7 linked regions of the Homo sapiens genome follow. The protein of the gene in region 2 purifies or fractionates together with the protein of the main gene of each other region. This does not show direct contact. Each region holds a gene or a part of one and is shown on either strand. Other genes may lie near its edges. The genes, in order: ASTE1, MYH11, LCP1, UBXN2A, UGT2B7, POC1A and PLBD2.

Evidence for each region.
Region 1: the proteins of MYH11 (region 2) and ASTE1 purify together in Homo sapiens (affinity purification with mass spectrometry; one large-scale study listed by BioGRID and IntAct). This does not show direct contact.
Region 3: the proteins of MYH11 (region 2) and LCP1 purify together in Homo sapiens (co-immunoprecipitation; one large-scale study listed by IntAct). This does not show direct contact.
Region 4: the proteins of MYH11 (region 2) and UBXN2A purify together in Homo sapiens (affinity purification with mass spectrometry; one large-scale study listed by BioGRID and IntAct). This does not show direct contact.
Region 5: the proteins of MYH11 (region 2) and UGT2B7 purify together in Homo sapiens (co-immunoprecipitation; one study listed by IntAct). This does not show direct contact.
Region 6: the proteins of MYH11 (region 2) and POC1A purify together in Homo sapiens (affinity purification with mass spectrometry; one large-scale study listed by BioGRID and IntAct). This does not show direct contact.
Region 7: the proteins of MYH11 (region 2) and PLBD2 purify together in Homo sapiens (affinity purification with mass spectrometry; one large-scale study listed by BioGRID and IntAct). This does not show direct contact.

The regions. Positions count from the first base shown.
Region 1 is NC_000003.12:131,016,826-131,020,325, reverse strand, and holds part of ASTE1 (single-strand DNA endonuclease ASTE1), read left to right. Parts: intron 1-1,609; coding exon 1,610-1,820; intron 1,821-3,276; coding exon of another isoform or gene 3,277-3,326; exon of another isoform or gene 3,327-3,336; intron 3,337-3,500. UniProt on the Homo sapiens protein: Structure-specific DNA endonuclease that specifically cleaves single-stranded DNA and 3' overhang DNA.
Region 2 is NC_000016.10:15,704,832-15,707,028, reverse strand, and holds part of MYH11 (myosin-11), read left to right. Parts: intron 1-2,197. UniProt on the Homo sapiens protein: Muscle contraction.
Region 3 is NC_000013.11:46,154,678-46,158,177, reverse strand, and holds part of LCP1 (plastin-2), read left to right. Parts: intron 1-1,607; coding exon 1,608-1,740; intron 1,741-3,291; coding exon 3,292-3,373; intron 3,374-3,500.
Region 4 is NC_000002.12:23,943,463-23,946,962, forward strand, and holds part of UBXN2A (UBX domain-containing protein 2A), read left to right. Parts: intron 1-3,500. UniProt on the Homo sapiens protein: Acts to repress the ubiquitination and subsequent endoplasmic reticulum-associated degradation of CHRNA3 by the STUB1-VCP-UBXN2A complex in cortical neurons.
Region 5 is NC_000004.12:69,106,474-69,109,973, forward strand, and holds part of UGT2B7 (UDP-glucuronosyltransferase 2B7 isoform 1 precursor), read left to right. Parts: intron 1-701; coding exon 702-789; intron 790-1,629; coding exon 1,630-1,849; intron 1,850-3,500. UniProt on the Homo sapiens protein: UDP-glucuronosyltransferase (UGT) that catalyzes phase II biotransformation reactions in which lipophilic substrates are conjugated with glucuronic acid to increase the metabolite's water solubility, thereby facilitating excretion into either the urine or bile.
Region 6 is NC_000003.12:52,140,924-52,144,423, reverse strand, and holds part of POC1A (POC1 centriolar protein homolog A), read left to right. Parts: intron 1-3,500.
Region 7 is NC_000012.12:113,361,587-113,365,086, forward strand, and holds part of PLBD2 (putative phospholipase B-like 2 isoform 1 precursor), read left to right. Parts: intron 1-3,500. UniProt on the Homo sapiens protein: Putative phospholipase.

The sequences.
Region 1 (3,500 bases), on a different chromosome or scaffold from region 2:
CACATGGGATAAAACCTAACTAACGTTAAGGGCTGTGAGTTGAGTACTTCCCCTTTTGGAAGGGACTGTGGACTGGTGGGTTTGATGAAACATCTTATACAAGTCATTATAATGACCATTTTACAGATAAGTCAGACAGACTGTAGAAAAGGTCAGAAACCTTTCGACCAAAGCCATAGGGTTAGTGCAGAGCGGAACATCTCTGAAGTCAAAGCCCAGACTGCTTTGTTTATGAAAAGTTGTAACTTGGCTCTATAATTCAGTAATTTAAATATATATCAGAAAAGAGTTGGTGTATTTTCTTAGCTCTACTTAGTGCATTTTAAAAACCAGTTTAAGAGTTTAGTTTCCACTTTACTTAAAATTTAAGTAGTTAAAACTACTTCCAGTAGGGGTAATTGGTTATACTATAAAGTTCTTTGCATATTTCTAATTTTAAAATTTGTATCACAATATTATTAAAAGCAGTATTTAGAAATAATCGTACTATTTAAAGTTTTCATGCATTAATGATAAAACTATTTTGTCATTTATGATGTGTTTTGTTTCAGGTTAATATCTTTAGTCTCAGCTGTCAACCACTCTTTCTACTAACTAGATGTTACATGCTGAGAAATGTTATTACCATCTCAACTTTCCAGAAAGCAGAAAATCTTTTTCTGGCTGTGTGCAGACACTAGGAATACAACTTTTCTTTTTCTTAAAGTTTGATTATAAAGTCCCCCAGAAGATGACCTTTTAATATTCCTGAGTGCATGACCTGTAAGGTCCCCATTCTGGTTCTTACAAGGTCTTGGTAATTCATTAAGGTAAAATTATTTCAACAAGAACCTCAGTGCTCTTATAGCTGTTTTACTTCTGAGCTTTTATTTGAAGTACACGCTAAACCATGAAGTAAAAGTATGGCGTGTTACTCCAAGCACAATGCAAGTAGTCCTTAAAATATTCCTATCTCCCTTGAATATACCTCTAATCTACAAGCAGCCACCCTGGGACAATCCCTGTGTGTCTTTTATGCAAAGACAATAAAGCATTCAACAGGGAAGGGACATGAGACAGGACCCAAACAAATAGAGTATATGCCACATAGGGTTCCTAAAAGCAACGTTTGTCTTCTGGAGGCAATTAGTAATGGCATCATGCTGAAGGCAAATGCCTGTTGCACAGGCACATACAGGTGGTGTTGAGTATACAGCTTTGTTTCTCAAAGTAGAATACTTGGGCTGCTAGTTAAAATGTATATTCCTCCTGGGCTCTCTCTCAGATTAGTCAATCAAAATTTATGGAGTAGGGCCTAAGGATTGAATTTTTAATGAGCTTCCCAGGTGACGTGCACTGAAGATGCTCACCAGCGTATACAAAGAGGATGGAATGACATAAGTAAAGGTGTAGGAGTAGGCAGTACACCCATTCAACCAACCATATTTATAAAGCATCTTATTAATGTTCTAAATGCTGTGAGTGTGGCTGATTTTTTTTCCCACAAGAAGATAAGTTTAACAGCTGACAGAAGTTTCAGTAGCATTAAATCTCTTCATGCTATGGTGGAAAAAAGAAATAACAGACATTTCCCAAAGTAACTTGCAGGATACTTGGTGTGTATTTTCAGCTCTCCTTGAGGAGGCGGCAGATGCTTCTGTTAGAAACCCTGAAGGTGAAACAGACCATTCTGGAGCCAATCCCTACTTCACTGAAGTTGCCCATTGCTGTCAGTTGCTACTGGTTGCAGCACACCGAGACCAAAGCAAAGCTACATCATCTACAATCCTTACTGCTCACAATGCTAGTGGGGCCCTTGATTGCCATAATCAACAGCCCTGGTAGGTAACTGGAAATTACAGGAGTATATTGTGGCATGTTGCTTGCAAACTGTTTACTCGAGTTTACACAAACAAAAAAGTATTCTTGGATTATTTACTCCCATTAATTGTATCACAACTTAGATGTGGAGGCACCAAAATATCATTCATTCATTGGTAAATATTTTTTAACACTTCATGTGCCAGGCTCAGTGCTGGAGGGCTTGAATCTTAAGTATACAGCAGTGAGATGTGTTGGGGTACTGCCAACTTCCATCTGTTTGGTGGCACCTACTCCTTTAACTTGTGAATTGTGACAGTGTATTTTGCCAGCTGCATTTTGTATTCCATGTTACCTATCCAGTTATTAGCACAGCAGCAACGTCATCACAAGAAACTTGCCCAGAAGTGAAACTTATCTAAATACCTACAACCACTACATTCTTGCTTATACATCTTTTTATTCCTTTTTCTCTGCTGTAGGTTTCAATTAGTATGTAAGTAGTGATGGCAGAAATAGTAATTTGTCCTTTTTTTTTTTTTTTTTTTTTTTTTTTGAGATGGAGTCTCACTCTGTTGCCTAGGCTGGAGTGCAGTGGTGCAATCTTGGCTCACTGCAGCCTCTGCCACCTGGGTTCCAGTGATTCTTCTGCCTCAGCCTTCCGAGTAGCTGGGATTACAGGTGCCTGTCACCGCGCCCAGCTAATTTTTGTATTTTTAGTAGAGACGGGTTTTCACCATCTTGGCCAGGCTGGTCTTGAACTCCTGACCTTGTGATCCACCCGCCTCAGCCTCCCAAAGTGCTGGGATTACAAGCATGAGCCACCGCGCCCGGCCAGTAATATCTCTTAAATACACTGAGGCAAGTTCATCTGCATATAATACCAGGTGAAGTAAATGCTGAAACACTGGGACACTTTAATACTTCAGTGGAATATCCTCTTTAAAGATTATGAATGCTCTAACACTGTATAAACATGCATAATAATTATACTCTGGAATAGTACTATCTAATATGGTGGCTACTAGCCACACATGGCCAAAGTTAAATTCCATTTAAATTAAAAATTCAGCTTTTCAGTCACACTAGCCACACTTCAAGTGTCAGGTAGTTACATATGGCTATAGGCTAGCCTACTGTATTGGACAGCACTGCAGAAAGTTCTATTAGATCGTGCTACTCTAGTTTACTATTTTAATAAGTTAGATAAAAGAATGAAACAGCATGGATTCCTGTTTCTAAAGTATTAAGGCTCAAGCTTGACAGCTGTCAGAGGGACTGTTGTTATATGACAGCCAACTTAACACAAAACAAATCAGTTAAGTCCCACTGCTGCTTTATGAACACAGGTTTAGAGTATTTCCTCTGATTGAATAATAAATACAGTATAAGAAAGCTCTCAGAGCACAAGCCTATTAAGTTTTTACCTGAGTCCAAGAGAAGGGGCATGTCAAGGGTCTGTTTCTTTTCTTTTAGGAAATGTGGACCCTGTACCCAGGCAGGCTCAGTGTCTTGCTCCTCGCTAGTTGGTAAAAGGTGGGCCTCCTTTTTATTATTTTCAAATTGGTCCAGATGTTATTTTGTGCACCCCTGCCCAAACAAATCTGTAGAAACTTACAGCTAAAAACACACAACATTCCTTATTTCCTAGGATTGTTGCTTCTTGCCCCTTATCCTCTACTATGAAAAGAAAATGATTA
Region 2 (2,197 bases):
AGACCCTTTAAGAAAACCTTTAGGGGGGTCCCTTAGTTCCTGTAACAGGTATAGTTGGTGTCAACCTTGGTCTAGGATTTGAAACCAGTTCCAAGAAAAGCACTTCAGCCAAAACAGAGTATCTTGCAGGCTGACAGCCAAGCAAGGAGCTTCAACGGCCCAGGGCACAATGTATTTCTTAGGTCAAGGGAGCAAATTTATCCATTAAGCTTTTCCAGTTAGCAAATAGACTCTTCCAAGAGCCAAAAAGAGAGTGCCTAGAGCACTGATGTGGAGGTTAGGGACTACTTCCCAGCTCATCAGATTTTTTTTTGTTTTTTTTTTTGGAGACAGTCTTGCTGTTTCCCAGGCTGGAGTGCAGTGGCACAACGTTGGCTCACTGCAGCCTTCACCTCCTGGGTTCAAGCAATTCTCCTGCCTCAGCCTCCTGAGTGACTGGGATTCCAGGCGCCTGCCACCACGCACGGCTAATTTAGTATATTTAGTAGAGACGGGGTTTCACCATATTGGCCAGGATGGCCTCGAACAACTGACCTCACGAGTGATCTGCCCACCTCGGCCTCCCCAAGTGCTGGGATTACAGGCATGAGTCGCAGCAACTGGCCAACCCATCAGGGTTTGAACCTGGAGTTAAAACTGTGACGAAGAGAGCTGTGTGGGGAGCGTACAGGGAACAGTCAAACTGCTGCTCCTCTGCGCTGAATTTGAGCATCCTTCTGAGTCAAGCGCTTGGAAAACAGTGCTAAAAAAGAAAAAGACTTAAGGGTCACATCTAGAGAGAGAAGGATGGAGAGTTCTCTAGTAGGGCTGCAAGTCCAGAAGCTTCTCTGTGAAGCTGGGCTAGGAGTGTTTACTTTGAAGTGGCTGCAGCTTTAAGTATTTATTCCTGATCGCTGCACTGCGGGAAGTCCCATCCTTTATAGCCAGGTGGGCTTTCCCAGCCGGGGTCTCTCCCATCCTCTGTCAACAAAAGGGTCATTTGCGAATTCCTCTTCTCAGTGATCATGAATCTCTGGGCCTTGATTTTTTTTTTTTTTTTTTTTTGAGACGGAGTCTCACCCTGTCGCCTAGGCTGGAGTGCAGTGGCCACATCTCGGCTCACTGCAAGCTCCGCCTCCTGGGTTCATGTCATTCTCCTGCCTCAGCCTCCCTCCCGAGTAGCTGGGACTACAGGCACCCGCCAGCACGCCCGGCTAATTTTTTGTATTTTTAGTAGAGACACGGTTTCACCATGTTAGCCAGGATGGTCTCGATCTCCTGACCTCATGATCCGCCCGCCTCAGCCTCCCAAAGTGCTGAGATTACAGGTGTGAGCCACCATGCCCAGCCGAGTTGTTCCTTTTGACTAAAGAATTGGTCACTGAGTTGTGTTCATCCTTATGGCTTCTTATCCAACCCTTGCGTGGGGAGCAAAAGTCTGCTCTCTTCTTTGATGTCCTAAAATAAGACCTGTCTTCCGATTCAGGTCAAACAGGGCCAGATGGCCAGAGCCCAACATAATTATTTGTTGCGGTTGCTGAAAAGAGTTAAGTGTTTCTTCTGAACGGTGAAGGCTGGCAGCAGGCAGATCTGATTTTTCCTTCTTCTGCCCACTCTCTTCCTCCTACCCAAAGTCTCCCCTCACGTGACCAGCCCTTCCTGTGAAGTCGAGGTGATAAACTCAAGAGAGAACCAGCGCAGAGAGGAGATGGCAGCATTAAGGAGAGACAGGGGTGTCCTACTGGCTGGAGCTAAAATCCACCTCAGAGGCCAGGTGCACTGGCACACACCTGTAATCCCAACACTTTGAGAGGCTAAGACAGGTGGATCGTTTGAGGCCAGGAGTTCAAGACCAGCCTGGGTCACATGGCAAAATCCCATCTCTGCTAAAAATACAAAAATTAGCCAGGCGTGGCAGTGTGCACGTGCATGTAGTCCCAGCTACTCAATACTGAGGCTCAAGGACTGCTGGAACTCAGGAGGCAGAGGTTGCAGTGAGCCAAGATCATGCCACTGCACTCCAGCCTGGGTGAGAGAGACTCTTAAATTTCTTTTTTAAATCCACCTTGAAGGCCAGGTGTGGTGGCCCACGCCTGTAATGCCAGCGCTTTGGGAGGCCAAGGTAGGAGAACTGCTTGAGCTCAGGAGTTCCAGACCAGCCTGGGCAACAATATCAAGACCTCATCTCAATTTAATAAAATAATCCACCTTGGATTAA
Region 3 (3,500 bases), on a different chromosome or scaffold from region 2:
TTGATTTGGAATAAATTTGTAAATTTATTCCGAAGGCTGCCATCCAACAGCCATAATGGAAACTTCCAACAGGCCAAACAGTATAGTTGTTGCAACATTTCCAAAACTGAATTATTCAAAACGTTAGTTGATCTTAAAGATAAACTCATGAGGCCGGGCACAGTGGCTCACGCGTGTAATCCCAGCACTTTGGGAGGCCAAGGCGGGTGGATCACCTGAGGTCAGGAGTTAAAGACTAGCCTGGGCAACATGGTGAAACCCCGTTCTACTGGGTGCAGTGGCGCATGCCTGTAATCTCATCGACTCGGGAAGCTGAGACAGGAGAATCGCTTGAGCCCAGGAGGCAGAGGTTGCAGTGAGCCGAGATTGCACCATTGCACTCCAGCCTGGCGACAGAACAAGACTCTGTCTCAAAAAAAAAAAAAAAAAAAAAAAAGATAAGTCATGATTAAATACCATCTATAGTTGCTAAGACAACGTTTGGCCTTTTGTTTTTAAATACAGGAATTTTCAGAACCTTTGCTGGGTCAAATGTGCAATGTGAATCTTTAAGGCGGAGATACATTCACTACACAGTATTTCCCAAACTTTTATGACTCAGGATTTCTCTGAGGGACACTACTGTTTTCAAAAACTGTCAGTTTGGGAAACATAGTGCTAGGCTGTGAAGACATAACTTGAGTTTTTATTAAAACATCTAAAAATCACCTTCTGGCAGCTTTACTGTTAGGAAAAAAAGATTATATCCAAATGATTTTATTTTATAGCAATTTAATTATAATTGTATCAAGAAACTCAGAGGTACAATAAGGATTGTCCACAGTGATCCAACATTTAAACCAGCAGAGCTAAAAGCGGAATCCTGAGTTTTGTCCTGTAAGCATTATACCACATTTGTATTTATATGTGTATATATATATGTATACATGCACATATAAATAAAATATTTTTATTATTTATGTATTTATATATAGAAAATAAACATATGTATATATTTGCTTCTAAATGTAAATATATATCTGGATTATGCGTATATATAGGAACAGAGAGATAGTTTTGGCCGGGCGCGGTGGCTCACACCTGCAATCCCAGCACTTTGGGAGGCTGAGGTGGGCAGATCACGAGGTCAGGAAATCGAGACCATCCTGGCTAACACGATGAAACCCCGTCTCTACTAAAAATACAAAAAATTAGCTGGGTGTTGTGGCGGGCGCCTGTAGTCCCAGCTACGGGGGAGGCTGAGGCAGGAGAATGGCGTGAACCAGGAGGCAGAGCTTGCAGTGAGCCGAGATCGCGCCACTGCACTCCAGCCTGGGTGACACTGTGAGACTCCATCTCAAAAAAAAAAAAAAGAAAAGAAAAGAAACAGAGAGATAGTTTTTAAATCTGTTTGCTCTATGTTTTATGACTTGGAGTACACAGACTCAATGCCTATTTCCCAAGTGATCTGAGATTTTTAAATCTTAATAAATATGAGATGATAAGATAATGGACTGAATAAACTCACATCTCTCTGCTGGGAATGAGAATTTAAGATCCACATGCATAATTTTGTTTATAATAGAGTTTCACTTTGCAAATGAGTCACTTTAATCATTTACTTGCAGAGGAAGAAAAGTATGCCTTTGTCAACTGGATAAACAAAGCCCTGGAAAATGATCCTGATTGTCGGCATGTCATCCCAATGAACCCAAACACGAATGATCTCTTTAATGCTGTTGGAGATGGCATTGTCCTTTGGTAAATAATACTTCTTTCTTGGTTTCCAAAGAATTGCCCATTTTCTAGACCATCAACAATTAATCGTTATTTATCGTAGGCCAACTTTGTTTGGTGCTCAGCTGCACCTAGAAGGCTTTTCTGGACTTTCACTTGGCCAGGTCCAGGACAGCAAACTAAATTCAAAAACAATTTATAATGAGAAATGTAAAATTGCTATTGCTTGAGTGGAGAGGAGGGATAAACATTATAGAGATAAACATGGAAGATATAGTTATACCAAGTCAAAAGCATTAGATGTCTAATCAATGTATTAGATAATTAAGTGGGGGAAACTTATAAAATACTGATTAAATAATGACTATAGAAGGACATTAAAAAGTTTATCTGATGACAAGTTTAAAGTATAAAGTTGGATCAGGCATCAAGCGGAAATGTAGACATTATGTAAGCTCAGAAGTACATAGATAGTCTCTTCTATAATGAGGACAATTTTCCTGGTTATATATTTTTGGAATATATGCTGCTTGGCTTCATCTGAGCGTGGCTCACCATGAAAGCAGATAGAATTGATAATAGCAGCAGGATGATGGAAGAAGTCCTTAAACTGTAGTCCTTAAGCAAAGAAACCTTTGAGTGATGCACAGAAATCCACAACTCAAACATTGAGGACACCTGGAAAAGGGGGACTGCATCCTACCCACGGGAGGCCTCTAAATATGGTGCTGCTCAATGCAACGTGGTGTCTTTGAAAATACCTCTGTAGCTCTTGCTTCAGCAGGTTCTCTGTCATCACAGGCCAAGTTGTAAGTGAAGTGACTTGAGGTGCTCAATATGTGAGGGACTCAGGACTTAAAGGATAACAATGGGTGGGAAAGACATTGAGCTTTCTCCTCTGCTCTGACCAGAGCAATTCTACTTTTGATATTTTATTTATTAGTTTGTCCTGAGAATTCATTTTTAAAAGGTTCAATTGCTATAAAAAAATCAAAATTCTAGCTTTTAGGTTGCCACCCAAGGCACCCCATGGTCTTCCCCCAATCTGCTAGTTTTACCTTCTAAGACCCCTGTGACTCATTGGTACTCAGCCTAGGGCACTGAGAAGGATATAAAAATGTTATCATATGATTAGCTGAAGATACAAAGTTTGGTCCTGTGTCAAATAGAAATGTAGACAATAATAAGCTCAGAATTTTGTAGACAGTCTTTTATATAATGGGGACAATTTTCATGGCTAAGAAAATAAAGTACTTATGGTAGAATTACTTTGGTTATCCACCCAGAATTTCCTAATGTGCTAAGAAAATCAGGATAATTTTGCAGCTGTTTAGGTGGGAGAATGAAGTGGGGTCCTCATTTCCAACCTCAATATATGAATGTGGCTTCAGTAGTATTCACCTTTCCCGCAGATAGTTTGAGTCTAGTCAAACGGCATAACTGATTTTATATCTAAACATCACAGATTCTGTTGCTATCTTCTTTGATTATGGTATTGCTAGAATTTAAATTCAACGTTACTGGGCTCTGTTATTCAGAAGACTGCTTTCTTTAATTTAATTGTTTCTCTTTCAGTAAAATGATCAACCTGTCAGTGCCAGACACAATTGATGAAAGAACAATCAACAAAAAGAAGCTAACCCCTTTCACCATTCAGGTATGTCTTCCCACCGTTACCATAATACAGGATTTGTTTGGCATCAATGAGCATCATAACTGCTGAGTCCGCCTTTTTCAGGGGCTCAGACATCATTCGCAAAACCCAGGCTTTGGGCTGGTGACTT
Region 4 (3,500 bases), on a different chromosome or scaffold from region 2:
TTTTCTAAAGGAGATTGTATGTATGTATGTTTTTATTTATTTGAGATAGAGTTTTGTTCTTGCCACCCAGGTTGGAGTGCAATGACCCAATCTTGGCTCATGGCAACTTCTGCCTCCTGGGTTCAAGCAATTCTCCTGCCTCAGCCTCCCAAGTAGTTGGGATTACAGGTATGCACCACCACACCCAGCTAATTTTGTATTTTTAGTAGAGAGAGACAGGGTTTCACCATGTCGGTCAGGCTGGTCTCGAACTCCTGACCTCAGGTAATCTGCCCGTCTTGGCCTCCCAAAGTGCTGGGATTACAGGCTTAAACCACCGTGCCCAGCTAAAGGAGATTATATTTAAAATGAGCTTTGCATTTCCGTCCAGACCAGAACCCAAGATGGCTGCACTCTTGCTGAGACATGTTGGAGTGGTCATTGCCTCCGAGCGCACTTTAGCCCTCAGCTTTGTATCAGAAATGCTGTTCCTTTGGGAATCATGGCCAAAGAAGAGATGGAATGGTTCTGGAATAAGAACACAGGTTCAAACCGTCCCGTATCTCCCCACGTCACTATCTAGAGTTGGTGTCTTCCTATGTCGATGTCCATCTGCCACCATGGCTCTGGTATTGCTTTGAGCACAGGGGTCTCTTTTTGGCATGTCAGCCCTGTTACTCCCAGGAAAGTTTAAGTCTTACTTGGAACTCATTGGTCCCTGTGTCTGGGGCCAGCACTGATGGACACAACTAAGTTTGCACTCGTCTTCCCTCTCATGTATCATACCTGGAATGGGATCCAACACTTGATGTGGGACCTAGGAAAAGGCCTGAAGATTCCCCAGCTATACCAGTCTGGAGTGGTTGTCCTGGTTCTTACTGTGTTATTTGTAGGGCTGGCAGCTGTGTGAAGAACTGAGGTGACCAGCATCATCTTCCTACACATTATTGTATTCACCCATCTTTCAGTTTGTCAGTCTTATCTCCACCCTGGGAAAAGTTCTCCTTATTTGTTTAGATTCTTTTGCGCTTTCAGATCCCCTTGGAACAGTACAGTACCTTGTAGACCGTAATGGTGGAAAAGGGTCTAGTTTTCCCCTTGTTTCTAAAGATGGGGTGGCTGCAAAAACTCCCCTTTTTTTGCCCACAGCTTGCCTAATCTGGGCCTAGAAGCAGTTATTCTCTCTCCATATTGGGCTTTGATTTGTGCTGAAGGTCAGCTTTTGGCTCCTCCTTCCTGGGATATTGGAAACAATGCCAGCTCTGTGGCTTCTGCCCTGGGGACTGGGGGTGAGGCTTTGGGCACCACTGCCTGTGAGTTGCTGGCTTAAAGGACAGTTCTGTTCATTGGTGAGAGCCAGGCCATTAACACCTACGCAGTGTTACTGAAAGAAGAGAGGTGGGAGTGGAGCAGAATTAGTCTGTCCCAGCTAGAGAGAGCTAAAGAGGACTAGTTAGTTCTTGGAGCAGCTGCTTTGAGGAGAAAATATATAGCTTTTGACCCAAGAGGAAGATCCAGAAAATTATTGAATATATTAAAGTTTTTTTTCTTGCATTTCTAGAAAAGCCTCTTAATTTTTTGCTTTCTCATCCAAGTCATGTACCACTTTTTTCTGAAACTGAATTAAAATACTTATTAAAAAAAAGGGGGGAGGGCCCTTTGTGACATAAGATAACATTTCAGTATGGAGCCCTGGAATGAGAATGTCCTGGAATGGGAATGTCTTGGTCAGCCCTGGAATGACTCAATAAGTAACCTTGCCAGTCTCTGCCTAAGTGTCACCTTTCCCATAGGATTTTCTCATTTAAATTACTGTTGTCACTACCACTTTGGTCCTTGGAGTATATAAGTAGCCCATTAAAAATTTCTAGGAAAGGACAAAAATATATTTTCTTCATTACTATGATTACAGCTAAAATAAGCTGAAACTTTCCAAAAGATTTCATTTTCTATCACTTAGTATATAGTAAACCAGAATTCACAAAATATACAAATGAACTGTCTTTTAAGTATTTGGTTCTGATGCTATCATAGTTGGTTGCTTTTGGAGGCTTGGGGGCCTAATCACATTCCATAGAAGATCTAAGTAAAAGGAACCCAACATGGAAATGTGATCCATTGGTTTCTTTTCCCTCGTGTTTAATACCTGGAATGGCCTTATCCTTAAAAAGAAACGTAAGCTTCTATATAAAGGTAGCATGTCTGATTGTATAATACCTTGATACAAATCCATAATCTAAAAAAAAGTGGCCAGTTTTTTGTTTGTTTTTGCATTTTTTCTCCTCAAATTCCTTTTGACCATGAAATATATGTTTTAAAAAATAAAATTGTAATGTGCAATTTTTAATTTAATTTTTAATTATGCATTTAATTCTTTTTTTTTCTTCTCTTTTTTTTTTTTTGAGACAGGGTCTCACTCTGTCACCCAGGCTGAACTGGAGTACAGTGGCATGATCTCAGCTCACTGCAACCTCTGCCTCCCAGGTTCAAGCAATTCTCGTGCCTCAGCCTCCCGAGTAGCTGGGGATTATAGGTGTGTGTTCCCACGTCCGGCTAGTTTTTGTATTTTTAGTAGGCACAGGGTTTTGCCAGGTTGGCCAGCCTGGTCTCAAACTCCTGGCCTCAAGTGATTTGCCCCCTTGGGCCTCCCAAAGTGTGGGGATTACAGGCATGAGCCACTGTGTCCAGCCACATTTAATTCTTTTGTTTATTTATTTATTTATTTATTTTTAGACAGAGTTTCACTTCGACATCCAGGCTGGAGTGCAGTAGTGCAATCTCAGTTCACTGCAACCTTTGCTTCCGGGTTCAAGCGATTCTCCCGCCTCAGCCTCCTGAGTAGCTTGGGACTACAGGCGTGTGCCATCATGCCTGGCTAATTTTTGTTTTTTGTTGTTTTTTTTTTTTACTCACTCTGTCACCAGGCTGGAGTGCAGTGGCGTGATCTCGGCTCACTGCAATGTCCGCCTCCTGGGTTCAAGCGATTCCCCTGCCTCAGCCTGCTGAGTAGCTGGGACTATAGGCGCACGCCACTATACCTGGCTATTTTTTTTTGTATTTTAATAGAGACGGGGTTTCACCATGTTGGCCAGGATGGTCTCCATCTCCTGACCTCGTGATCCACCCGCCTCAGCCTCCTAAAGAGCTGAGATTACGGGCATGAGCCACCATGCCTGGCCAATTTTTGTATTTTTAGTAGAGATGGAGTTTCACCATATTGGCCAGGCTGGTCTTGAACTTCTGACCTCAAGTGGTCCACCTGCCTCAGCCTCCCAAAGTGCTGGGATTCAGGCATGAGCCACCGCACCCAGCCCTATTTAATTCTTAAGATGTAGTTTTTATATTCAGATTCTTATACACTTATTTTAAATTTTTGTTTATAGATTTTAAAAAAGAAATCAGACAGTCTCCCAAGTCAGAAGAGTCTCAGACTCCCAATTTATTAATTTTTTTTTTTTTTTTTTTTGAGACAGGGTCTCACTCTTACCCAGGCTGAAATTCAGTGGCACAATTATAGTTCA
Region 5 (3,500 bases), on a different chromosome or scaffold from region 2:
ACCATATTTTCTCTATTCAGCCCATAATCAATGGGCATTTAGGTTGATTCCATGTCGTTGCTATTGTGAAAAGTACTGCAATTAATACACCTGTGCATGGGTCTTTATAAAAGAACCATTTATAGTCCGTTGGTTATATACCCAGTAATGGGATTGCTGGGTTTCATGGTATTTTTACCTCTAGGTTTTTGAGGAATCGCCAGTCTTCCACAATGGTTGAACAAACTTACATTCCCACCAACAGATTATAAGCAAGCCTTTTCTATACTACCTCACCAGTATCATGATATTTTTTGAGTTTTTAATAATAGCCATTCTGACTGGTGTGAGATGCTATCTCATTATGGTTTTGATTTGCATTTCTCTAATGATGTTAAGCTTTTTTCTTTTTTTTTTTCATATGATGGTTGGCCACACGTAGGTTTTCTTTTAAAAGGTGTAACAATTTTTTAAATGCTTGAAATTTTCATTGATAATCTGATTTTTTCTAAGGTACTATTTTGGAAAATCATGATTTCCTTATATACCTAACTAATTATAAAAGTTGAGAAAATTAATGTGAGTATTCTATTTACATTAGTCTTTGAGTAGTTCTTATTTACTAACATCCCTTGATCTCATTCCTACTCTTTATACAGTTCTCACATTCTATAACTTTTGAATTCCACTCATGGAATAAAATATTTTCTTTATTGTAACAGGTTCTGTGGAGATTTGATGGGAATAAACCAGATACCTTAGGTCTCAATACTCGGCTCTACAAGTGGATACCCCAGAATGACCTTCTAGGTAAGACTCTGGTGAACAAATACTGAATATATTAGTAACAGCACATTAGAGTGTTAATAGTTCATCATGAAACAAGCTTATTGAATATTTGTTAAGGAAAAACAAAATGTAACTTCTTTATATTGATTTTCCAGTCTTAAGGGAGAAAGAATACATTATAATTTTTGGCATTTTATGATATACACCCACATTCTTTATAGTCTGAATCGGGGGAATCTTTATTTCAGGTGTTATTATATCTCACAAAATTTTTCAATAACTTCCTGGGCTGTCTCTCTGTCTCCTATTTCTACAACTTTACACCTGTTTTTTTCCTCTCCCGCAGGGTTATTTGAAATGCCACTAAAAATAATAGCTCTTCTATCACCAGTGACTCTGTATTTTCTGAAGAATTAAACTGCTAATCTTAATCATACAGTGATGATACATTTCACGATGAAGTGTGACCTGTCCTTCCTCAATCCTAGCACCACCACCAAACCACTGCCTGCTGCCTTGCCCACCCCATATATCACACTCTGTGACTGCACTTAAAATAAGAGTTCACTTCATGCCTATCTCTTTGCTGTCTTCTTTTTTGCACATTTTTGAAATCTAGAATGCAATTTTTCATTAGCCCAACTGGAAATCTTGTATTGTTTTGCAGTCTGAAGTCACACACACCGTATAGCCTTCAGTTACATACCCAGTACAAGTACGTGTTTTTTCCTCCGAAGTCTGAAACACAATTTTAATTTAGTTCAGTGTTTTAGCTGGAAAACACTGTCACTTTCAGAGCCTTTCATTGTGCATCTCATTTTATTCCTATGAGTAATTTTGCTAAAATTCATCCAATCCTAGGTCATCCAAAGACCAGAGCTTTTATAACTCATGGTGGAGCCAATGGCATCTACGAGGCAATCTACCATGGGATCCCTATGGTGGGGATTCCATTGTTTGCCGATCAACCTGATAACATTGCTCACATGAAGGCCAGGGGAGCAGCTGTTAGAGTGGACTTCAACACAATGTCGAGTACAGACTTGCTGAATGCATTGAAGAGAGTAATTAATGATCCTTCGTGAGTAGAACAATATTTTTCACTAGGTGGTATTTACAGATAGCTTCTCTTGTCAATAGTGAGTGTGAGTTTCATCCTTTTTATAAGAGACTAATTTTGAAAGAATTTAAATGATTTAACCAATCTGAAATCTGCTTTTATTTTTATAAGTTATTTAAAAATTGAATTTGAAACACATACATCTAAAGAATAGCCAGTTAGTGAAACAATTTTCTACACAAAAATAATTTTAAAAGGATATAGATAATACAAAAAATACATTTCTTAAAAATTTGACATAATTAATCCATAGAAGAAAGGAAGAATAAACCTGAAATAATATAATAAAATATTTTAATTAGATATCTAAAACACCTCAGAGTATAACCATTTTCTTGCTGAAAAATTAACTTTTATTATTATCATTATTGTAACAGACTTGAAAATGAGATTTAATTTTGATAGCATAAAACCCCCCTGTTTATGTTATAAAATCCAAATATATTTAGTATGTTTACAGAGCCATGAAGCCATCACTATTACATAATTTTAGAACATTTTTATCAACACAAAAGAAACTGCAATGACACAGAAGTCACTTCCTATGACCGCTTAGCCCTGGTCTAACTAATTTGTTTCCTTTCTCTATAGATTATTCTCTTTAGATATTTCATATGAATGGAATCATACAGTTTAGGGTGTTGTGAAATGACATTTCACCTAGGCTAATTTTTTGTTGTTTTTTTTTTCTGGTTTTAGTTTCATTCATGTTGTTGTGTGTTTTAATACTTCATTTCTTTTTATAGCAGTTTAATATTTTTTAGTAAAGATATGTCATATTTTAGTTGTTCACTTATCAGTTCATTGGCCTTTTGATTGTTTTCAATTGTGGCTATTAGGAAGATTGCTACACATGTTTTTGCATAAACATGTTTTCCTTTCTTTAGGGTTGATACTATAAGTGGAATTGCTGCTTCATGTGGGAACTGTATGTTTATGAAGAACTGCTAAACTGTCTTCCAAAGTACTTGTTTCATTCATGACTACCACCAGCAGTACAACATGGTTCCAATTCCTCCATACTTTTGCCAAACCTGTTATTCCCTGACTTTTTGTTACAGCCTTCTTAGTGGGTGTAAAATGATCTCTCATCCTGGTCTTGGATTGCATTTTCATTACGGCTAAAGGTGTTGAGAATCTTCATACGTGCCTACTGATCATTCATATATCTTCTTTGAAAACAGTCTATCCAATCCTTGGAACATTTTTAAACTTTGCTATTTGTCTTATTATTAAGTTTAAGAACTATTTATATATTATGGGTCATGTCAGATATATAACTTGTAAATATTTTGTCCCACTCTGGGTGCACTAAATTTTACTTTTTGATGTTGGTCTTTGAAGCACAAAAAATATAATTTTAAGTTAAATTTTTAATAATTGATTTTTTCAAACCCAAAGATATCAATGTGCAAAATTCCTTGTGGAGTCCAGCTACCATCAATTCAGCATTTATAGCTACTATCAATAATGTTTTTTTATATAAGCAGGGTATCATCTAAAGGAATACTTGAAAAATACTTTATCACAAAAAAAGAAGGATAATGAATGATAAAAATACCTTTAAAGAAGATAGGAAATAATTGAAAAAGAACACAAACCAGCTTGGACA
Region 6 (3,500 bases), on a different chromosome or scaffold from region 2:
CCCCCTCCATAGGAAGCCCTGAGGTTTGTTACCAATGCTCTTTCAGACAGAGGCTTCTGGAACAGAAGAGCAGTGGGGCTTGCCTCCACTTGGAGCCCATATCTTTCCTATCCTTCCTTCAGCCTTCTGCTCTGGGCCAGGCCTGAGTGAAGGGCTGGGGCTTGGGGATGGGGCACATCTGCCCAGCTGCCTGGGGAACGTGGGCAGGTGCAGAGGAGGGAGGACTTGGACAGGGAGAGATGGGAGTGGAAGGCGACGAGGCAGGACAGTGGTCAGGAGCACATGCTGTGGTTCCTTTCTGTAAAGGGGGTGGCAATAGGCCTTCCTCATGGCTTTGTGAGGCTCTGATGGGAAAAGCCACAAAAGGGTTATAACACAGGGCTAGGTATGTGGTTTGTGCTACATAAGTCCTGACACTGGGCAGAGAGGATGTCTAGGTGACCCTGGGAGGGTCCAGACCCATCTCTGATGGATCAGGAGCCTGGGCCTGGTGTTCATGGGTATAACAGCAGGTACCCCTTGGGAAGGGCCTTGGATGCCATCTCTGGCTCGGGGTCCCAAAGATGTGGCCTGATTGGCAGTGCTAGGACTAGCCTCGTCATTTAAGGTATGAAGGGAAGAAGGACATCTGAGAGGATAGCGGTGTCCAGAGCCTGCTGGGGTTGGGGGCTGGTGTGCCCCATGTGTCCCAGTGATGGGTAGGTGTCCAGCTGTGCCTGGTATCAAAGTAGGGGCTGGCATCAGAGTGGGGGATGGGTTGCAGAGGTTGAGTAGAAGCAGAGAAGCTGACCCTGTTGGGGTGGAGGGGCCAGCTGGACCCAGGGATCTGGGATGTGAGAATGGCTGAGGTCACATTCTGAGCCCCTATAATTGAGGGGCCACAGAAGATAAAGGTCCACAAAGCAGCCAGAGTGAGAGGTATGAACCCCGTCTCCAAGCATGGGAGAGCTGAGGAGGGCAGAGGCTGGGGAGTGAAGGAGAGTGGGGTCTTGTGAAGAGGGTTGTCAGGAGGTGGAGCAATGCAGAGCAGCCGAGGAGAGCGGTGGGTACTGGGGAGAGGGAGCTGGGGACCTGGAGGGAGCAGGCTTGGCAGAGGGCAGGGGCGGATCTCCATGATGGCAGGGTTGGGGAGGTGTGGATGGACTCAGATGAGCTCCAGGGGCTGAGTCCTGAGTGGAGCTGAGTGTGTGGGCTGACAGGCCCTGCTGGGAGATTGCAGTCTGCTTGTGCTTCTGGCCTTGCCTCTTATGACAGCCTCTCAGTGGGCCTGCAGTGTCTCATCCCTAAGCCACCCCTAGTGTAGATTGGAGGCTTAGCAGGATTTGGAGTACCCCATAAACACAGCCGGTTCCCCCTGAGCTCCCTGCTCAATGCCGTGGCCAGTGGTGGGTGTTCACAGGATAGCGGAGTCATCCCATAGCCTCTAGGCTGACCCTTAGGGGTGCAGTGAGCCAGGTTGATCTGAGCTCCCTGGGTAGGGGGAACATACCTCTCATCCTCTGCTGACGGGAGGACATGGCCAGGTCTGCTCTGGTCTTGGGGCTCCCCAGAAAACCTTTAGCTGAAACTAGGGGGAAACCCTCTACCCAAGTGGCTCCCCCACCCCCATAGGTGCAGTGGAATCTCTTTGGAGGCTCATTCCCCAGGAAGGGCTCCCAGTACTCTGGCAACAGATGCCTGATCCGCTTTCTGTCCCTGATCCCTAGGAAACCCAAGGGAAACCTACGGACACAGTGACGTGCAGTGTCTCCCCTAGTGACTCTGGATGGGCATCAGGCACTTCCAGAATGGCCTTCGGGTGTTGGACGCTGATGGGCTCTTGTGAGAGGATTTGGTTAATGATACTGCAGTGTGTGGCTAGCAAGCCCCAGCCTGCCTGCATCCAGCCGTCCATAGTTGTGCTCTATGAGGGCACTTCCTGTTCCTGCTAGGGTTGTTGGAGTTGAAGCCCACTTGGGGCTTTGGGCTATGGAGGCAGCTGGAGCCATTTGTCTTGCGCTGGCTGACTCTCCTAGGTAAGGAGTTTCTTGGCTCTGGCCTATCACTGCAGAGAGCAGTTCTGATTTCTCAATTCAGCAAGGATTTGGGCTGGTGGAGCCCTGGGAGTGCCAATCCCTGTGGTGGTGGGTTAGCTCCATATGCTCTGAGCCCACGTTAAGACTGTTCAGGCATCTGAGCAGCAGCCCCCATCCCAGAACCTGTAATGTGCTTCGTGCCTTACAGCACGTGCAGGTCCATTATCCAGTGACAGGCCTGGGTGGCCAGCAAAGTAGGTCTACCCTCCATTTCACAGATGCGGAGCATGCAGCCCACAGTCACACAGCTAGAAAGCTATGGGTCTGAGTCTCCACCTCAGGGCCTTTGAGTCTGGCATTCTGTTGACAGGCTCACGCTCGGTTCCTTGCACTTCGGTGACTCTAGTCATTTACTCTTCAGGCTCCCTGGGAGAGGTGGTCTCTTTGGCTGGCTGTCAGCAGGGCTTAGAACTCATAGAGTCCCAAGCTCTCTGTCCGATGGTCTTTAGTGCAGCCCTGCACCCCCGCCTGGCCTGATACATTGTCATGGAGGGTTTTGTCTTTTTTTTTTTCTCTTTCAGAGATGGGGTTGGGGTCTCACTGTATTTCCCAGGCTGGTCTTGAACTCCTGAGCTCAAGCAGTCCTCCCACCTCGGCCTCCCAAAGTGCTGGGATTACAGGCGTGAGTCACCATGCCCGGCCGGAGGGTTTTAAGTAGTTGCAGCTATCAGGGCAGGCCTGTACCCTGTACTGGGTGTTTTGAGACTAAAAGGGTTGATTGGGGTACAGTGGTGCTGTCCCACCTGATCTAGCCAACCTACTCTCCCACTGTCCTGAAGTGAGCATTTACACGGCATTTACACAGAGGAGTGTTTTGGGTGTCCTTTGCTGCTGGTATCAGAGCACTTTTGTGGTATGAATCCAAAGCCTCTTGTCAACCCAGAGCCACCGTGTCACTAGTAACATCAGTTGCGCATCGCAAGAGACCACCCTGGGGAAAATGAGCGGTCCTTTTGTGGAAGGATGTTGGGATGGGGCTTGGCCCTGGCATGGTCTCCTCTAGAGAGGAACCTCCTGCTTGGGCACCCAGGCTTTCTCTGGGCCCTTGGCTGGTTTGCAGCCCGTTAGGTAGTGGGCCTAGGTTTGCCCAAGCCTCTACAGGCAGAGCAGCATGGAGTGGGTGTACTCAGGTCTCTGCTTAGACCACCTACTGCCCACAAGCCATGACTAGTTCTTGGTATTTGGGAGCAGGGGCTGTGGTGGCCTCATCCCTGGGTCCCTGAGGATCTGTAGAAGTTTGATGTTGGTGTATCTTTGACCTGGAGTCAGAGTTCTCTCTTTGGAGTGGAGATGGGATAAGAGCCACAAGCTCACAGCTGCCACCCAGGTGGCAGTATGTGTCATCACTGATATCTGCCATGGAGCCAAGAAGAGGCCTGCGGCTTTGGACTTGAAAAAAAGTGGATCATGCTCAGACATTTGGCG
Region 7 (3,500 bases), on a different chromosome or scaffold from region 2:
TCCTCTCACCTTAGCATCCCCAAATGTTGGGATTACAGATGTGAGCCACTGTGCTCGGTACCTTCTTTCAGTTGTGCCATATCTTGACTTTGGGCCAACACCCCCACACAGCCTGGAAACATTTATGATTTGGTGCTTGGAGATCAGAGATGTCACTAGGAGCAGAGCCTGCCTCAGTCTAGCTCTGGCCTTGGTCCTGGGGAAGCTGTATCCTCCAACCTTACTTTGTCTTCCTTCCCTGATCTGATCCCACTGACCAGCACCTTATCGACGAGGTTGCTTAAAGTAAATCACCATCCCGTTGAGAGAGGAAGTGAATCAAAGTTAGAGGGAATTAACAAATTTAGTAAACGGGGAAGCATCCCAAATCCACCAACCAACAGGCAAAAACAGCCCAGTAAAATGGATAAATAAGGCCCAGCTGTTTCTTTGAACAATCACAGGAGATGAATCTATACCATCAAGAATGAGAAAGGAGGACAGGCGCTGTAGCTCATGCCTGTAATCCCAATGTTTTGGGAGACCGAGGCAGGAGGATGGCGAGGGGCCAGGATTTCGAGACCAGCTTGGGCAATGTGGTGAAACCCTGTCTCTGCAAAAAAAAAGTAAAAAATTAGCTGGGTGTGGTTGCGCATGCCTGTGGTCCCAGCTACTCGTTTGAGCCTGGGAAGTCGAGGCTGCAGTCAGCTGTGATTGTGCCACTGCACTCCAGCCTGGGCAACAGAGTGAGACCCTGTCTCAAATAAAAAAAAAAAAAGGCTGAGATAGGAGTGATAGACACAGTTATGGGGGGCATCCCACATAATGGAGAGCATCCAAGGCCATACTAGACTGCGGAAGTGGGGTGCTGATATTTGTGAGATATTTGTGGCCCCCTGCTCATATCAGTGGTCTGACTTTTTCCAATGTGGCCTCTTTCAAGAGGCACCTTGATTAGACTCTTGAGTCATCTTAGAGACATTAGCTGCCCCTGGCATGAAATTGCAATTTGGCCCATAGATTTTCCAGGAAAAAAAAAAAAAGATTGAGGAAACAGACCTACTGCTGCCAACTTTTAATTTTTGTCAAGCAAGTGCATTAAAAACAAAGGAGAGCAATATTTGTCAACCCCTGTCAGCGTTTATCTCATAAAAGATTGGCAATTTTAGAGCAAACAAGCAGAAAGGACATACTCTCTGAATAAGGAGTAATCTTCTTTTGATTTATTTTTTTTTTTTGAGATAGAGTCTGCTCTGTTACCCAGGCTGGAGTGCAGTGGCATGATCTTGGCTCATTGCAACCTCCGCCTCCTGGGTTCAAGTGATCTTCCTGCCTCAGCCTCCCTAGTAGCTGGGATTACAGGTGTGAGCCACTATACCCAGCTAATTTTTTTTTTTTTTTTGTAATTTTAATAGAGATGGGGTTTCACCATGTTGGCCAGGCTGGTCTTGAACTCCTGACGTCAGGTGATCTGCCCACCTCAGCCTCCCAAAGTGCTGGGATTACAGGTGTGAGCTATTGTGCCTGGCCGAAGAGTAGTCTTTAATAAGCACATCTAGTTATAGACACACTCTAAAGTGTTTTTCTGGCCGGGCGCTGTGGCTTGTGCCTGTAATGCCAGCACTTTGGGAGGCCGAGGCAGGAGGATTGCTTGAGCCCAGGAGTTTGAGACCAGCCTGGGCAACATGGTGAGACCCTATCTCTGCAAAAAATATAAAAAACTAGCTGGGCACGGTGGTGCGTGCCTGTAGTTCCAGCTACTCAGAAGCTGAGACGGGAGGACTGCTTGAGTCCAGGTGAGGCTACACTGAGCTGTGATCACGCCAGTGCACTCCAGCCTGGGTGACAGAGTGAGACCCTATCTCAAACAAAACAAAACAAAACAAATTTCTAGCAGTTTAGAAAGAGGGGATGGGATATGGGAAGTAAAAGCCTCCCCCTACCATTCTTCCTAGATATAAACATTTTTAGCTTTTTTTTTTTTTTTTTTTGAGGTGGAGTCTCGCCCTGTTGCCCAGGCTGGAGTCAGTGGCGCGATTTCGGGTCGCTGCAAGCTCCGCCTCCCGGGTTCACGCCATTCTCCTGCCTCAGCCTCCCGAGTAGCTGGGACTACAGGTGCCCGCCCCCACGCCCGGCTAATTTTTTGTATTTTTAGTAGAGACGGGGTTTCACCATGTTAGCCAAGATGGTCTCGATCTCCTGACCTCATGATCCACCCGCCTCAGCCTCCCAGAGTGTTGGGATTACAGGCGTGAGCCACTGCACCCGGACTTTTAGCTCTTTCTTCCAGAATTTTCTATGCATAAAGAGGCCTAAACCTTCTTGCATACATATAAATGTAGAGGCATATGTGGTGTGTGATGCATTTACACAGGGGCTTAGTTCGTGCCTACCATTTGGACTTCTCGACTTTTTTTTGAACTTCATCTCTGACCTCTTTGCTCATCAGCACATGCAGTCCGCTATGGCATGTGTGATTATTGTATCAGGCCCCTAATGATGGGTGTTTCGGGAAGGCCCGTCTTTTCTGGCTTTGAAGAGAAGTCCTGCTGTGAAGAAGGGCCTTTATGCCCATCTCTGCAGGGCTGTATGAGCATCCGGCCAGGGAATGGGTTCCTAACCACTGCCCGTCTCCGGGGCCTCAGTGCCGAGGCCTTGGCTGAGCCCACCCTTGCTAGAAGGGGTAGCTCTCACCAGGTGTGCCCTGGAGGAGGCCACTGGCCGCTCAGTTACTACTGGGGCTCGCGGCTGCACAGCTTTTTTGGTTTTACGCAGTTTGTCCGAGGTCTCCTTTGATCCACTGCCAGCTTTTATCACGAGGGGATCTGCATATTGGGCCCTGTTATAATCTTCCTCCCATCATCACACTCGCCGGGTCTCCTCAAACTCCTACCCCCTCAGATTCTTTTTTTTTTTTTAATGAGACAGCATCTTGCTCTATTGTCTGGACTGGAGTACAGTGGTGTGATCATAGCTCACTGCAGCCTGGGCTCAAGCGATCCTCCCATCTTAGCCCCAGCCTCCTGTGACTATAGGCAAGCACCACCACACCTGGTTAATTTATTTTGTATTTTTTGTAGAGAGGGGAGTCTCGCTTTATTGTCCAGGCTGGTCTCTTACTCCTGGTCTCAAGTGATCCTCCCACCTCAGCCTCCCAAAGCACTGGGGTTACAGGCATGAGCCACTGCGCCATCTCCTCTCAGATTCTTGATGAGACAAATACTTAGTGAGTGCATAATGTGTGTTCTCTCCTGGCACATGCCACAGCAGTCCTCTGAAGGGGGAGTCACTCTGCCCATTTTACAGATGAGAAAACCGAGGCCCCGAGAGGTAAAGCAGTTTGCCCAAAGGTACACAACCAGTAAGGGATCTACCCAGGGATTCAGACCAAGTCGGAGGGACCCACAAGCCCAAACTCTTTGTCTTCCATTCTCCTTGAAATTTAAAAATCTAATTTTTTCCCCTTGTTTTTTCCTCTGTCCTTATCTGTGATGCTATGTGAATAATTAGCCCGAAGTTCA